2 linked regions of the Homo sapiens genome follow. The protein of the gene in region 1 purifies or fractionates together with the protein of each later gene. This does not show direct contact. Each region holds a gene or a part of one and is shown in the gene's direction. Other genes may lie near its edges. The genes, in order: SERINC1 and NDUFV3.

What was found.
Region 2: the proteins of SERINC1 (region 1) and NDUFV3 purify together in Homo sapiens (affinity purification with mass spectrometry; 2 studies listed by BioGRID and IntAct, with this or other methods). This does not show direct contact.

Annotation. Positions count from the first base shown.
Region 1 is NC_000006.12:122,468,808-122,477,174, reverse strand, and holds the start of SERINC1 (serine incorporator 1), read left to right. Parts: upstream 1-5,367; 5' UTR 5,368-5,437; coding exon 5,438-5,476; intron 5,477-8,367.
Region 2 is NC_000021.9:42,902,474-42,910,731, forward strand, and holds part of NDUFV3 (NADH dehydrogenase [ubiquinone] flavoprotein 3, mitochondrial isoform a precursor), read left to right. Parts: intron 1-708; coding exon 709-1,803; intron 1,804-4,366; coding exon of another isoform or gene 4,367-4,429; intron 4,430-6,390; coding exon 6,391-6,548; 3' UTR 6,549-8,258. UniProt on the Homo sapiens protein: Accessory subunit of the mitochondrial membrane respiratory chain NADH dehydrogenase (Complex I), that is believed not to be involved in catalysis. Complex I functions in the transfer of electrons from NADH to the respiratory chain.

The DNA of each region.
Region 1 (8,367 bases):
TATAACACAACCAGATTCTGAAGACTTATATGAAAAATAATGTAAAACATTCTATTAAGAATTTTTATATTAATGTCATTGAAATATTTTGGATATAGAGTTCAATTAAATGCATCTTTAAAATTAATTTCATCCGTTTCTTTTAATACATCTACAAAAAATTTTAAATTACAAATGTGATTCACATTTCATTTCTATTGGAAGGTGCTGATTTAGACGTTGCCTTAATAACATGTTTAATAAGAATTCAAAAATCTGATGAGTGCCAAATCGAACTAGTTGATTCCTTTCTGTAGCACAAATAAATAACGTTTTGGGTGAATGAATGTGAAGAATTTCTTCAGTATATAATTTCATTATTTTATCAAGGTCAATACATCTGCCCTTGAAAAGTGAAATGTTTTAGAAATGTCATTTACACTTTTTCAAGAAGTCACTCCCTTCTCAATGATTATAAAATAGTACATTAAATATTAGACACATATTTGAATTTGCTATCCACTTTATTATTTACACAGTGAATATTTCCTTTTTTCCTGAATTTATGTATGTTCTGCCTGAAATAAACTTATTTTTGTAGACATCTATTTCACTGGTATAAACATATCTGCTTGTTATGGAATTATAGGCTTAGATTTCAGCAAAATAAGAAAATCTGTGTGGAAAGAATATTGTTCATTTGCTGTTTTAACATTAAGACCATAATTGAAGAGAGTTTTTGTACATTTGACACTGTATCTTAGTTTTGAATTATTTTCCAAAACTATCAATGTGTGTCTTAACAGATAAAAGCATGTCTTTAATCAGAATATGGTCTCTTCCAATTCTAAGTTTATACTGACCCCTATGGGTTACTGTGTCCTAATCTATTTTTGGCTTATCCTTTCAGAATATCTGTGAAATACTTAAACATGTTTACATTTAAGATATAACTAATTTAGGATAAAAGCCATAAAATACTTTTTATATTTTTGCTCTCCTTGGATTATATAACAAACTATGCACAAATTTTATTCATCCTTTAACTACTGTGGGGGGGCCAAGATGTTTCAGTCCTCATTATATTTAGTGTTGATGTACTAAGGACAAGAGAACTAAGCAGTATAATTTCTAATTTCCAGAAAAATATGACCTGATTATTTTCCTTAAAATCTGTTCCACTCTCACAATATTTCAGAGATATAGATCATTTATTAGGATAAAAAATAAAGTTTATACAGAGATTTGTGTAAAGGCAGGAAGGATTATGGGACCAAAGATGAGTCTAATTTTAGTCAACCTTGATGGAGACACACTGATTCTAGGTTACACTGGGAATTTTTAATGTGATATACATGATTCTAAACCATATCCTTATGGATTGATTATTTATTTTTACTTGTTTTTTTTGAGACAGAGTCTCACTCTGTCACCCAGGCTGGAGTGCAGTGGCGTGATCTCAGCTCACTGCAACCTCTGCCTCCCAGGTTCGAGCAATTCTCCTGCCTCGGCCTCTTGAGTAGCTGGGACTACAGACGCATGCCACCACACCGAGCTAATTTTTGTATTTTTAGTAGAGACAGGGTTTCACCATGTTGGCCAGGCTGCTCTCAAACTCCTGACCTCAGGTGATCCACCCACCTTAGGCTCCCAAAGTGCTGGGATTACAGGCGTGAGCCACCACACCCGGCCTATTTTTACTTTTATAGAGATGAAGTCTCACTATGTTGCCTAGGTTGGTCTCTAACTCCTGTGATCAAGCTATCCTCCTGCCTCAGTCTCTGGAGTGTTGGAAATAAGATGTGAGTCACTGCACCCAGCATAACCTTATGGATTTCAACAGGAATTACAAGAGGTGGCGAAGGGTTATTGACATTTATTTTCCTTTATGCTGAAGATGTGGTTTCTGAAAATAAAATTATTATTTTTAGTATTCTCTCAAAAATTCAATGGGCCAGGCGTTTTGGTACACGCCTGTAATCCCAGCTCCTCAGGAGGCTGAGGTTGCAGTGAGCTGAGATCAGGCCACTGCACTCCAGGCAGCGGTTGCAGGAGAATCGCTGGAATTTGGGAGGTGGAGGTTGCAGTGAGCCGAGATCAGGCCACTGAACTCCAGCCTGGGCAATAGAGCAAGCCTACGTCTCAAAACAATAACAAGAACAACAACAAACCAAAATGACTGATAACTGACAAATCTATATTTGAGAGTGACTTACATAAACCTAAATTTTGTACCTAAATCATTCTGAAATTACATTGGTTAATATTGATTTTTGTGAATCCATTATTGAAATTTTTACTATGGCTAGGATAAGCTTCGTAATCCTGCTTTACATTTTTCTCAGGGTACAATAGTCACAACTATAGTTTATCTGGGAGAATTCATTTACCTATATGTAAGAATGAACCTGGACTATCTTCTAAGGAAAACCTTAAGCCTGTCTATAGTACTCCACAGATCTCCCAGCCCATTTCTGTGCATGTCTATTCTGACAAGTATTTTGGTCTTTCTCCTGAATTTCCCTAAGAGACTATTAATTTTACATACCATTTATTTGAATGTTAAAGTCTATGTCTTGTCCTTAATTGACAACACAGAGCATTCATGCTCTGATTCTTGACAACAAACATAACCTTCAGCTCTCTGATGCCACATATGGATCAAAAGTTTAATTATGAGAAAAGATATTCTAGGAGGGCTGCCAGAAGGCTATGAAGTCCATCCTTCCCTCCATCAGTATTTCTTAAACTATATTTCATGGAACACTTACAGTGCATATTAATACATTTCATAAGAAAAAAAGATTTTTTAAGGTCAAGTTTAGAAAACATTAGGAGTGAAGGAATTGAACATGCTAATATGCAACATCAGTCACAAGAGAAGAATGTAACAGGCAGTACCATCCAAGCTTATCTGAAAACTTCTTCCAGCATGGCTACTTAGTAACATTCTCAAAAAAATCAATATTCCAATTTTTTTGTTTTTTGGCATACTAGCCCTTAATCAAGTCAGAGAACTGAGTTATTAGATAGCATGGCTTTTTTGTTTGTTTGTTTGTTTTGAGACAGAGTTTTGCTCTTATCACCTAGGCCGGAGTGCAGTGGCACGATCCCAGCTCACTGCAACCTCTGCCTCCTGGGTTCAAGCAATTCTCCAGCCTCAGCCTCCTGAGTAGCTGGGATTACAGAGGTGTGCCACCATGCCCTGCTAATTTTTGTATTTTTAGTAGAGACAGGTTTTCGCCATGTTGGCCAGGCTGGTCTGGAACTCCTGACCTCAGGTGATCTGCCCGCCTCAGCCACCTAAAGTGCTAAGATAATGGGTGTGAGCCACCATGCTCAGCTAGATAGAATGTTTTTTACTAACGTACTTACTTAGACTAATTTGAATTTTGGCATTGTAAGTTATACGTGTGCTACAGGAAGTCACCTGGAGAAATGGGTGCTCCTACTAATAGCTGGTATATATTGAGAAAACTATGCTTTGAGCTGTGTTTGGGTTGAAATTTGAAAAAGTCATCATTTCAATTTTCTTTCATAGTTGGCAAAGAGAAAAATGAGACTGGTGTCGAAGACTCTTCTAACGAATAAAATAGTCTATATATACTGTCGTGTCCAATTAATGTTGTATATATAATAACTTAAGTGAGCAAATTCCACTCCACATAGCCTACAGGTTAAATAAAAGTAAATTTTTTTTAATGTATTTCAAGGCCAAGTGTTACATTCCAGAAAGATTAATATGACTTTTGTATTTAACTCTGAATATCTCAGGTGAAAAAACTCTATTGAATAGTGCAAGAACTTATGAATATCTCAGAAACCCTCTTAAATGGAGCAAGAGACAAGAATCTGTGCAAATTTAAATTTTAAGAGACCCATTCTCCATTTGGCTAATAAACATATTCTTTACGACCTTAAAGTTACTCACATATAAGTGTTTTTTGTCTCCTTCTCTGGTACTTTGAAAAGTTTAAGGACTTGAGATACTAGGATTCTCTTCTCCCATAAATAACGTATTAAGTTTAGCATAATTAAAAATATTGTTAGGTTTGTAATTTCCATTTCCACTATTCTTTTTTTTTGAGACGGAGTCTCGCTCTGCAGCCCAGGCTGGAGTGCAGTGGCCCAATCTCGGCTCACTGCAACCTCTGCCTCCCGGGTTCAAGCAGTTCTCCTGCCTCGCCTCCCGAGTAGCTGGGATTACATGCGCGTGCCACCATGCCCGGCTAATTTTTTGTATTTTTAGTAGAGATGGGGTTTCACCATGCTGGCCAGGCTGGTCTTGAACTCCTGGCCTTGTGACCCGCCTGCCTCAGCCTCCCAAAGTTCTGGGATTACAAGCATTTCCACAATTCTTTAAACCTTATGGATGCTCTATTATAATACTTTGCTTTAAGAGTGGTCTACAAAACCACAGATAAGGCAAAGAAGAATAAAGCAAGATTGTCCCTTAGTGGTTACAATAACTAGGAGTAGGGATTCTGACATTCTTCCAGATTCTTAGGTGTTTACCCCACCTCGACCCATGCAATTTTTGTAGATTTTACAACACTTTCTTATTATTAGTTATGGGAATGACTATTTCAAGTTTGAGCTGTTTCCCAGAATATTTTCAAGAACAAATAACTCTAAAAAAATAACTGGAACTTTTATAGGAATGCATTCCCTGCAGATGTGCATCATCACCTAATATGCAAGGGTTCCACATGCCTCAACAGCTCATGACATTCGAAATCAATGTTTGAGTTTGATAATGTCTTATCTAACTAATTAAAAATAATTTTAACGTGCAAATTTCTTGTAACATCTTAATAGCATAAGAAATTAAAATATAAGTCAATAGCAAACAGAAATGATACAGAGAAACTGAAGCACACAGATGAATATAAATATCCCAATAAAACTTGTTCCGGGCAGCGGGCTGCAGGAATACGTTGCAAACGCAAGAGCAAAACAGGATGCAAACGTGGGAAAAATGGGAAATAAGTGGAGTTAGGACGGACAAAGACTGAGAAAGAGGAAGCAATCCCCTAAAAAGCAGAGAGGTTCCTCAGATGAAGGAGGGCAAAACGTCAACCACCACCTCAGCTCTGTTCTCTACTAATGCCCAAATGCAAGTGCATGGTAGGTAAAGGTGGGTTTTGCTCACACCGTTTTCTTAATTTGGCAAACTACGGTCAGATCCACATTAGCCGTTAAGTTTCCAGCCAGCAGTCCTTGAGAAATTCTCCAGGAAAGAAGACAGCCGTGTCGTCTAGTGACGCGCATGCGCAGTCTCAGCGCTGCGCGCTCCGTGTTTTATCCTACCCAGGCCTGGAAGGAAGTGACGCGAGGCTGAGGGGCGGGTTGCGCTGTGCGTCCGGAAGTGTCTCGCAGATAGTAAATAATCTCGGAAAGGCGAGAAAGAAGCTGTCTCCATCTTGTCTGTATCCGCTGCTCTTGTGACGTTGTGGAGATGGGGAGCGTCCTGGGGCTGTGCTCCATGGCGAGCTGGGTAAGGTGCTTTTTGCGGCCTCTGGGGTGCTAGTGTGAGAGACCAAAGAGAAGGCGATCCGAGCCGGGGCTGGGTGAGCCCGGCGGGAATGTGGTGCCCCACCCAACAGGGAGTGCCCTCTCTGTCCCCGTTTTCTTCCCGTCTCCTCTCGTCACTCAGACTCAGCTTCAGAGCTTTGGGTCTTGCGAAGAACTGATCACTGGCCGTAAGGTTTAGTGGCGATGGGAAGATGACTCAAATTGAGGAAGAGAACTAGAATAGGGCCCCTCCCCCACCCCTGCTTCGTGAACGCTGTCTCCCATTCTTTGAGGTCCCTTTTCGTGGTTTTGTTTGTATCTGCGCAGGCCATCTCTACAAAGGTCTTTGCCCCTTTCCTTCGGTGGGGTACCCACTCTGTTGTCATCTCTTTCCTGGCGACCTCAGACTGCCGCACTGTCGTTCCTGGATTCATGTCGCCCTCTTTGTTCAGTGGCGCAGATTATGATTAAAAAGTGCCTGTCGTCATTTGGAACCGCCTGGCAGTAATGCTAATGTAGTAATATTGTTTTTGAAACAAATAGTCATAGCTCTGCCGTAACTGTTTGAAGTGTCAATTTCAGATTTCAACTTAAAATTGAAATTTCAGATGACACACGCATGCCTTGTGCCTAATGACAATTTTGTCTTTAGGCACAAAACATGCGTGTGTCATCTGAAATTTCATGCTTAATTAGCTGTACATTGCATTTTCATTAAAGAGTTGTTAGAGTAAAACTATTTTCAGTATAGTGGCAAGACTTTGGTCCGTGTGGCACAAATTTCAGTTTATTTAAGATAATCTCTGCCCCCTCCAAAATAGTAGGCAAAACATTGGCAGTGCAGTTAATAAAGATATTTGTAATTTTAGGCGAGGTATTTGGACTCAAATCACTTTTCTTTAGTCTGGAATTTGTTAATTCTGTTTCTAACAATTGCTTTTCTGACTTCCCAAATGATTCCGTTATATATACTCTTAAAGGTTTTGATATGTCTTGAACTAAAAATGTTGAATTTTAATCAAATAATAATGTGGGGATTGTTACTCCAGCCAGTCTGTTCTTTTGATTATATGGTATTTCTTCTTGCACGGAAGCCTGGAATATTTTATCTCAAGATATTAGAGAGTTTAATTATTGACTTTTATACAAAAGAGGCATATTTAGTGTGATAAACAGTTTTGAAAACTGATAATTGATTATCATATAAGATTGTTTTCATCGGTTTTTTATTGGAAGATGTTATGCAATTCAATTTGTAATGTCGTATCTTGTCCAGTTATGAAGTGGGCGTGCTGTAGTTTTTTGTATATAATAGAGATTTAAAAGATGAGATACATGTTTTCCCTTTTACAAAATAGATCGCCACCTTTATTGATTAGAAGAATGTCCGTGATAAAATTGACCCTGCCTTTTAGTTTCTGTGTTAATAGCGAAGTACATTAAAAAGGTAGAAGCAGTGAGGCAGTTTTTTAGAGATGGGGGTCTAAGTGTATTGGCCGGGCTGAAGTGCAGGGGATGGTCGTAGTGAACTGCAGCCTGGAACTGCTGGGCTTAAGTGTAACCTCAGCCTCCCAGGTAGCTGGTACTACAGGCAGGTGCTACCGTGCTCAGTTTGGAATTTATTTTATTGTTTGCAGTTTCAGTAATCTTTTTCCCTTTTCTTCCTTGTGCCTCTGTCTCTATTCATTAATTGTTTGATTTTACTGCAGGCCAATAGTCATTGAAGGGGACCATCTCTTCCACATTCTTAACAGTTAATGTGCTCATTTACTTAGAGGTTTTGATGAAATTAAAATTTATTCAGCTTTTCAAAAGTAACACTCAGAGCCTGCTGCAGTGGCTCACGCCTGTAATCCCAGCACTTGGGAGGATGAGGTGGATGGATCACTTGATGTCAGGAGTGGGAGACCGCCTGGTCAATATGGTGAAACCCCGTCTCTACTAAAAATACAAAAAAAAATAGCTGGGTATGGTGGCACATGCCTGTAGTCCCAGCTACTCGGGAGGCTGAGGCAGGAGAATTGCTTGAACTGGGAGACGGAGGTTGCAGTGAGCTGAGATCATGCCACTGCACTCCAGCCTGGGCAACAGAGCAAGACTCCATCTCAGAAAACAAAACAAAACAAAACAAAAAAACAAAAATCAGCCGGATGTGGTGGCGCACACCTGTAATCCCACTCGGGTGGCTGAGGCAGGAGAATCTCTTAAGCCCAGGAGGCGGAGGCTGCAGTGAGCCAAGATGGCGCCACTGCACTCCAGCCTGGGCAACAGAGTGAGACTCTGTGTCAAAAAAAAAAAAAACAAAAACAAAAAACAGAACAAAAAAAAAGTAACATTCAAATCATTAAATTAGATCAGGTAAGCCAGAATTAAAAACAAACCAACCTCATTCTTAATTAGTACAAGTTTCTGCAGGCTTAATCAAATTTAGTAAAAGTTTTTTCCTTATTTATAAAATAATTGTAGAAAATGTCTGAACTATAAAGAGACAAATTATGTGTAATACCACTGAGCAGAAATTGGAGTGTTAAATTGTTCACTTTTTGTTTGCTGCTAAGAGACCTAGAATTAGATTGATCATAATCCTTGGTTCATGGCAGTATAATTTTTTATTCATGCATGGTTGTCTCTTTTTTTGATTGTTAATTACTTTAAACATTATAAACATCATACCAACTAATCCTATAACTATAACATTACCAATCACTAATACCTACTTACATGCTTTTCCCCATCCCAGTCTCAACATTGGTATTAGTGAGTAGACAGAATTGATTTTTTTTTTGAATGGGTGAGCCTTATATACAATACCTATCAAGATATTTAGTTTAGTTAAGTCGTTAAGAACTAGTGATTACTGAGTGCGTATTTTTT
Region 2 (8,258 bases), on another chromosome or scaffold:
CTAAAAACTTGAAGGCCATGCCCTCACTTTTCAACTAAGCAGAAAAGAGATTCAGGAAATTTGAGTTCTATTTTGAGGTGACAGGGAAGCAACAAGGCGAATTCCTGCTTTCACTAATTACTAGTACAGTATTTGTAAACCTTTATTTTACATAGTTTGTTATGGTCTCTGAGAGAAGAGAAACAGTCTCTGAAAGTCCCCATCTCAGGCTGTGAGATAGGCCTACACAGCTAGTCTTAGGTCGGTAGTTTTGTGTTTTATTATACAGTCATCCTTCAGTATCTGAGGGGAATTGGTTCTAGGCCACCCCTCCCACCAGGATTCCAAAATGTGCAGATGCTCAAGTCTCTGATATACAGTGATGCAGTATTTGCATATCATCTAAGTACATCCTCCTGTATACTTTAAATCATCTCTAGATTACTTATAATACCTCATACAATGTAAATGCCATGTAAATAGTTGTTGTATTGTTTAGGGAATAATGTCAAGGAAAAAAGTTTGTTCATGTTCAGTACTAAAGCAGATGATTTTCTGAACATTTTCCATCCTCAGTTGGTTGCTTGGTGGGTTTCTATGGGACCTGTCTTAGGATGATTGCATTGAAGATACTGTCAGTAATAAGTAATGTGTCATGAAATGTCTGTAATTTTGACTGAGTTTTAAGTTGTTTTGTTAAATAACATTCCTCTTTATGCCGTTTCCCAGATGTAGTGGAACCAAAGGAGAGGGGCAAGCTCCTAGCCACCCAGACAGCAGCTGAATTGTCTAAAAACTTATCTTCACCCAGTTCTTACCCGCCAGCTGTGAATAAGGGCAGGAAGGTAGCTAGTCCCAGTCCCAGTGGCAGCGTGCTATTCACAGATGAAGGGGTTCCGAAATTTTTGTCAAGAAAGACTTTGGTAGAGTTTCCACAGAAAGTTCTGTCTCCATTCAGAAAACAGGGCTCTGATTCAGAAGCTCGTCAGGTGGGTCGGAAAGTGACGTCGCCTTCGTCTTCATCCTCTTCCAGCTCCTCTGATTCTGAATCTGATGATGAGGCTGACGTTTCAGAGGTCACTCCTCGAGTGGTGAGCAAAGGCAGAGGGGGGCTTCGAAAACCAGAGGCCTCTCATTCCTTTGAAAACAGAGCCCCCCGAGTTACAGTATCAGCAAAAGAGAAAACCTTGCTGCAGAAGCCGCATGTGGACATTACTGATCCAGAGAAGCCCCACCAGCCAAAGAAGAAAGGGTCCCCTGCTAAGCCATCAGAAGGCAGGGAAAATGCGAGACCAAAAACCACAATGCCCAGATCTCAAGTAGATGAAGAGTTTTTGAAGCAAAGTTTAAAGGAAAAACAATTGCAGAAAACATTTAGATTAAATGAAATAGATAAAGAAAGCCAAAAGCCATTTGAAGTTAAAGGACCCTTACCTGTCCACACAAAATCAGGGTTGTCTGCGCCACCGAAGGGCAGCCCAGCGCCTGCTGTGTTGGCAGAAGAGGCCAGAGCAGAGGGGCAGCTGCAAGCCAGTCCTCCTGGGGCGGCAGAGGGGCATCTGGAAAAACCCGTGCCAGAGCCCCAGCGCAAGGCGGCCCCTCCCCTGCCCAGAAAGGAAACCTCAGGGACGCAGGGAATAGAAGGCCACCTGAAGGGTGGACAGGCAATCGTGGAAGATCAGATACCACCAAGCAATTTGGAGACAGTTCCTGTTGAGAATAACCACGGTTTCCATGAAAAGACAGCAGCGCTGAAGCTTGAGGCCGAGGGCGAGGCCATGGAAGATGCAGCCGCGCCAGGGGACGACCGAGGCGGCACACAGGGTATACCTTGACTCGCGCTCCCAAGTGCACCCTGTCCCTTAGGGTAGTGAGGCAAAAGAACTAATTTACATATGCTTGTAGAGCAGTGTTACAATTAGTCAAATTCTGTACTAGAAATATGGCCTGTAACGCTGTCTCAGCCAGGCAGAAAAGTATGTCTTAATTATGGACAATCCACATCTTTATATTTAGAATCCCTAAAATATTTAACGTTCTTTTTTTTTTTTTTTTTTGAGATGGTGTCTTGCTCTGTTGCCCAGGTAGAGTGCAGTGGCGCGATCTCTGCTCACTACAACTTCCATCTCAAGCACTTCCCCTGCCTCAGCCTCCCAAGTAGCTGAGATTACAGGCGCAGGCCACCACACCTGGCTAATTTTTTTTGTATTTTTAGTAGAGATGGGGTTTCACCGTGTTGGCCAGGCTGGCCTCGAACTCCTGACCTCAGGCAATTCACCCGCCTCGGCCTCCCAAAGTGCTGGGATTACAGGCATGAGCAACCCCACCCTGCTTAACCTTCATCTTTTTTTTTTTTTGAGACAGAGTCTTGCTCCATCTCCAGGCTGGAGTGTAATGGTGCAATCTTGGCTCACTGCAACCTCTGCCTCCCAGGTTCAAGCCATTCTCCTGCCTCAGCCTCCTGAGTAGCTGGGATTACAGTCCCCCACCACCATGTCCAGCTAATTTTTGTATTTTTAGTAGAGACGGGGTTTCACCATGTTGGCCAGGATGGTCTCAATCTCCTGACCTCATGATCAGCCTGCCTCGGCCTCCCAAAGTGCTGGGATTACAGGCCTGAGCCACCGTGCCCGGCCCCCAACCTTCATCTTAAAGAGTATGTCCTTGGCACTCTTCACTATTTCTTAACCGGTATAATTTTTGAAAACTGGCAGCTTAACATTGTCACCACTGACTTTTGAAGGTGTCCAAGTGTTCATTGATGACCTTGTGGGGCATCTCGCTAAGTGAAAAGGGGAGCCTCCGGTTTAACTTGCATAGGTGAAGAGCAGTAGCTAGTCGCTTGGCGTGAGAGTCTTTGGGTAAACTAGATGATTGCTTTCAGCATCCTGTGCACAGGGCAGATTCATAGTTCAGGAATTAAAGCAGTAAGTGTTGTACAGGTCAGCCGCTGCATACGCATCCTTTCCCCTGGACAGCGTTTCCTTCTCTGGTTAACTGAAAACACATGTGGGCTGCTTTACTCTTCTAGAAGACATTTTATGAAGGGTTTTTTGTTTGTTTGTTTGTTTGTTTGTTTTTGACATGGGTTTTGCTCTTGTTGCCCAGGCTGGAGTACAATGGCGCAATCTTGGCTCACTGTAACCTCCGCCTCCTGGGTTCAAGTGATTCTCCAGCCTCAGCCTCCAAAGTAGCTGGGATTACAGGCGTGTGGCACCACCCCCGGCTAATTTTTGTATTTTTAGTAGAGACAGGGTTTTACCATGTAGGCCAGGCTGGTCTCGAACTCCTGACCTTAGGTGATCCACCTGCCTCGGCCTCCCAAAGTGCTGGGATTACAGGCATGAGCCACCGTGCCTAGCGTGTGGAGGCTTTTAAAGGGCAACAGTATTTATTCCTATGATGTTACCATTTTTTTTTTTTTTTTTGGAGATGGAATCTCACTCTGTCACCCAGGCTGCAGTACAGTGGCGCAATCTTGGCTCACTGCCGGCTCCACCTCCCACGTACAAACGATTCTCCTGCCTCAGCCTCCTGAGTAGGTGCCACTACAGGTGCCTGCCACCACGCCTGGCTAATTATTGTATTTTTAGTAGAGACAGCGTTTTGCCATGTTGGTCAGGTTGGTCTCGAACTCCTGACCGCGGGTGATCCACCTGCCTCTGCCTCCCAAAGTGCTGGGATTTCAGGCGTGAGCCACTGCGCCCAGCTATGTTACCATTTTCTTGAGCACGAAACTTGATAAGATGCAATGCGCTTTAGGTGGGTCGTGGCAAACATGAAAAGGCAAGCTTCCGTTTTAGAATCCATGGCTCTTCTTGAAGACTTCTCTAAAGTGCATGATCCCTAACAAGCGCGGCTCCGTCCTGTGTCTGCTCTCCATCCTCTGTACCGCCGCCCCTTGCCTTATGTGCCTTACATGACGCCTTCTTGTTCTTGGTTCGTTGTGCGACAGGATCTATGTGTTTTCCCCCCTCTCCGTCTGCTCTTTGATCAGTACGCCAAGTGCCGGTGCTTGCCAGACTTCCCAGCCCTTAGGAACTGCATTTCCTGATGCTGCTGCTTTCACTCCTCCTGCTCGAAAATGGAGACGAATAACACAACTCGCAGGATAAAAACAGAATTGGGAGTTTTCAGACTGCAAACCTTTCTGAAGAGAAAGTTCTAATATTTCACGGGTGTGTTGTTTCTTAACTATCTTCTGTGCGCATGCGCAGAGCCCACCTTGCAGAGCCGTGTCTGTATGGGGCCGCGGTCTCACTAGGCAGTCCGTGCCCCAGTACTGGCCTTCCAGGTAGAGTGGTTTTAGATCAGAGTTTTGTAACCCACGTCTTGGTCAGTTATCACCCTCCCTATAGTAACTAAAATAGTACGTTCTGCTTTGAAGGTGTCCCTACACCACACCGAAGATACTCACCTTGTGGAGATTGGAAGGATGCCAGCTCTTTAAATGAGACATCGTTTTTGCTTAACGTAACTTAAAAATGAAAAACAGAGCTTTTGATATTAATTGAAATAGTGAGAAAATAAATGTATTTAGGTTATTTTTTTGTGGAGCATGAATGGAAGTTAAGACAGACCTAATGACCTGATTTACAGAAATTGAGTCAGTACAAATCTTAACCCAAATATCAGCCTGTGTTCCCGTGCTGGTTTTGATTTTGCCATTATGTTATATTGTGTGTCCTGCTGCAGGAGACCAGTACTTCTTTTGCCTCAACCCCTACTTGTAGTTTCGAATTACCAAATGTTTAAATGCTGTGTTGTTGTTATTAGAATTTATCTAATTTTCTTGTATCAGAGATTCAGAAGGCTCCTTTAGTTTAAGCTTTTCAAAAAAAATTTTTTATTTGACAGACGTGCTCTGTCCCACAGGCTGGAGTGCAGTGATGTGATCTCAGCTCACTGCAACCTCCACCTCCCAGTCTCAAGCAATCCTCCCACCTCAGCCTCCTGAGTAGCTGGAGACTACAGGTGTGCCACCATGCCCTACTAATTTTTTTTTTTTTTTTTTTTTGAGACAGAGTCTAACTTTGTCACCAGGCTGGAGTGCAGTGATGCAGTCTCAGGTCATTGCAATCTCTGCCTCCTGGGTTCAAGCAATTCTTGTGCCTCAGCCTCCTGACATAGCTGGGATTACAGGAGTATGCCACCACACCTGCTAACTTTTGTAACTTTAGTGGAGACAGGGTTTCACCTTGTTGGCCAGGCTGCTCTCAAACTCCTGGCCTCAAGCAATCTGCCCGCCTCAGCCTCTCAAAGTGCTAGGATTACAGGTGTGAGCCACTGCTACTGGCCCCTGCTAATTTTTTATTCTTTGTAGAGACAGAGTCTCACTATTTTGCCCAGAATGATCTAGAACTCCTGAGCTCAAGCAATCCTCCCACCTCGGCCTCCCAAAGTGCTGGGATTATGGGCGTAAGCCACCATGCCCAGCCCAGATTTCTAATAGAGGTAGATTTTATCATGCATCTCTAAGTTACCTGAAAGTCCTGCTATAATTGTTCTAGGCATTTTCAAACTTTTGAGAAGCCTAGAAGTATACAAACTAAGATGTTAAGACACGTTGTATGGCCTGGCATGGTGGCTCACGCCTGTAATCCCAGCACTTTGGGAGGTCGAGGCGGGCAGATCACTTGAGCTCAGGAAATCGAAACCACCCTGGCCAACATGGTGAAACCCCGTCTCTACTAAAAATACAAAAATTAGCCAGGCGTGGTGGCAGACGCCTGTAATCCCAGCTACTTGGGAGACTGAGGCAGGAGAATCACTTGAAGCTGGGAGGTGGAGGTTTGCAGTGAGCTGAGATCGCACCGCTGCACTCCAGCCTAGACAACAGAGTGAGACTCCATCTCAAAAAAAAAAACGCATTGTAATAACTATTCCATTTCTTAAATTGGAAGGCTGTATGTTTTAGAATAAACTTCCAAGTAATATCTTTCTTTTTCTTTACTGTGGCTTTTGTAGGCTTTTCTTTTTTAATTAGACAATTTGTTCCTCACAGATAGGGTTGATGAAGAACGCTTGGTAGGTAAGCACCTGTGTGTGAGCCGAGTCATTCATAAAGAACTGTTCACAGATAGGTTGATGAAGAATGCTTGGTAGGTAAGCGCCTGTGTGTGAGCCGAGTCATTCATAAAGAGCTGTTCACAGATAGGGTTGATGAAGAATGCTTGGTAGGTAAGCACCTGTGTGTGAGCCGAGTCATTCATAAAGAGCTGTTCACAGATAGGGTTGATGAAGAATGCTTGGTAGGTAAGCGCCTGTATGTGAGCCAAGTCATTCATAAAGAGCTGTTCACAGATAGGGATGATGAAGAATGCTTGGTAGGTAAGCGCCTGTGTGTGAGCCGAGTCATTCATAAAGAGCTGTCCTTGTGTTGGTCTCATGGGCATCGTGTTTCCTCCGCAGAGCCAGCCCCAGTGCCTGCTGAGCCGTTTGACAACACTACCTACAAGAACCTGCAGCATCATGACTACAGCACGTACACCTTCTTAGACCTCAACCTCGAACTCTCAAAATTCAGGATGCCTCAGCCCTCCTCAGGCCGGGAGTCACCTCGACACTGAGGGCCCTCGGTGTGAAGATGAACCTTCCACCGTCTTCACTGCATCCTGGAGTGCAAAAATAAAATCCACTCAAGAGTCACAAGGCCCGCTGTGCATAATCGGTTTCACTTTTACCTTTTTTTTTTTTTTTTTTTTTTTGAGACAGGGTCTCACTCTGTCACCCAGGCTGGAGTGCAGTGGCACATTCTCGGCTCACTGCAACTTCCGCCTCCTGGGTTCAAGTGATTCTCCCACCTCAGCCTCCCAAGTAGGTGGGATTACAGGTACTCACCACCAGGTCCAGCTAACTTTTGTATTTTTAGTAGAGACAGGGTTTCACCATGTTGGCCAGGCTGGTCTCGAACTCCTGACCTCAGATGGTCTGCCCACCTCCGCCTCCCAAAGTGCTGGGATTACAGGCGTGAGCCACTGCGCCCGGCCACTTTCACACTTTTTACAGTGAGTGGTGAATTAGCAACAGTAACACTGATTATCCAACATATATTTTGGAATATCTACTATGTGCAAGGAATTTTTCTTAAACTCTAAGGTTATGAATCACTGGGCAAATCCATATAATTAGAGAATTTTAAGTGCTTTAGAGCGGTGTGATTCTACTGTGCTCAGCCTAGTCAATTTCGCATTAAACTGATTATCAGCTGAGTATCAATAATGTAATAGTGACTTCTTTTATTTTTTTTGAGATGGAGTCTCTGTTTCCCAGGCTGGAGTCCAGCGGCACAATCTAAACTCACTGCAACCTCCGCCTCCTGGGTTCAAGTGATTCTCCTGCCTTACTTAGCCTCTTGAGTAGCTGGTACTACAGGCTCACGCCACCATGCCTGGCTAATTTTTTTTGTATTTTTAGTAGAGATGGGGTTTCACCATCTTGGCCAGGCTGGTCTTAAACTCCTGACCTCATGATCTACCTGCCTCAGCCTCCCAAAATGCTGGCATTATAGGCGTGAGCCACTGCACCCAGCCAGTAATAGTGACTTCTAATCCTACAGCCCTGGTTTTTGATCATTAGAAACAGGAGTTTTGGCCAGGTGCAGTGGATAATTCCTGTAATCCCAGCGCTTTGGGAGGGCGAGGCGGGTGGAGCACCTGAGGTCAGGAGTTGAGACCGGCCTGGCCAACATAGTGAAACCCCATCTCTACTAAAAATACAAAAATCAGCCAGGCATGCTAGTGGGTACCTGTAATCCCAGCTACTCAGGAAGCTGAGGCAGGAGAATCATTTGAACCTGGGAGGCGGAGGTTGCAGTGAGCAAGATCGTGCCATTGTACTCCAGCCTGGGCAACAGGAGTGAAACTCAATCAAAAAAAAGGAACAGGAATGTTACTAATTTTAACTACTGCATTGCAAACAAATTGTATTGCAGTATTTTACCATCAGAAAAGGAAGGGAATTGTTTTGTTTGCCTCTGTTAGATATTTTATATAAACTTGAGGACATTTTCATTGGTGAGATTCGGAAGAGGTGAAGTTTCTTGCAGTACAGGGACGAAGTAGGAAGAGGTGAAGTTTCGTGCAGTACAGGGACGGAGTAGGAAGAGGTGAAGTTTCGTGCAGTACAGGGACGGAGTAGGAAGAGGTGAAGTTTCGTGCGGTGCAGGGACGGAGTAGGAAGAGGTGAAGTTTCGTGCGGTGCAGGGACGGAGTAGGAAGAGGTGAAGTTTCGTGCGGTGCAGGGACGGAGTAGGAAGAGGTGAAGTTTTGTGCGGTGCA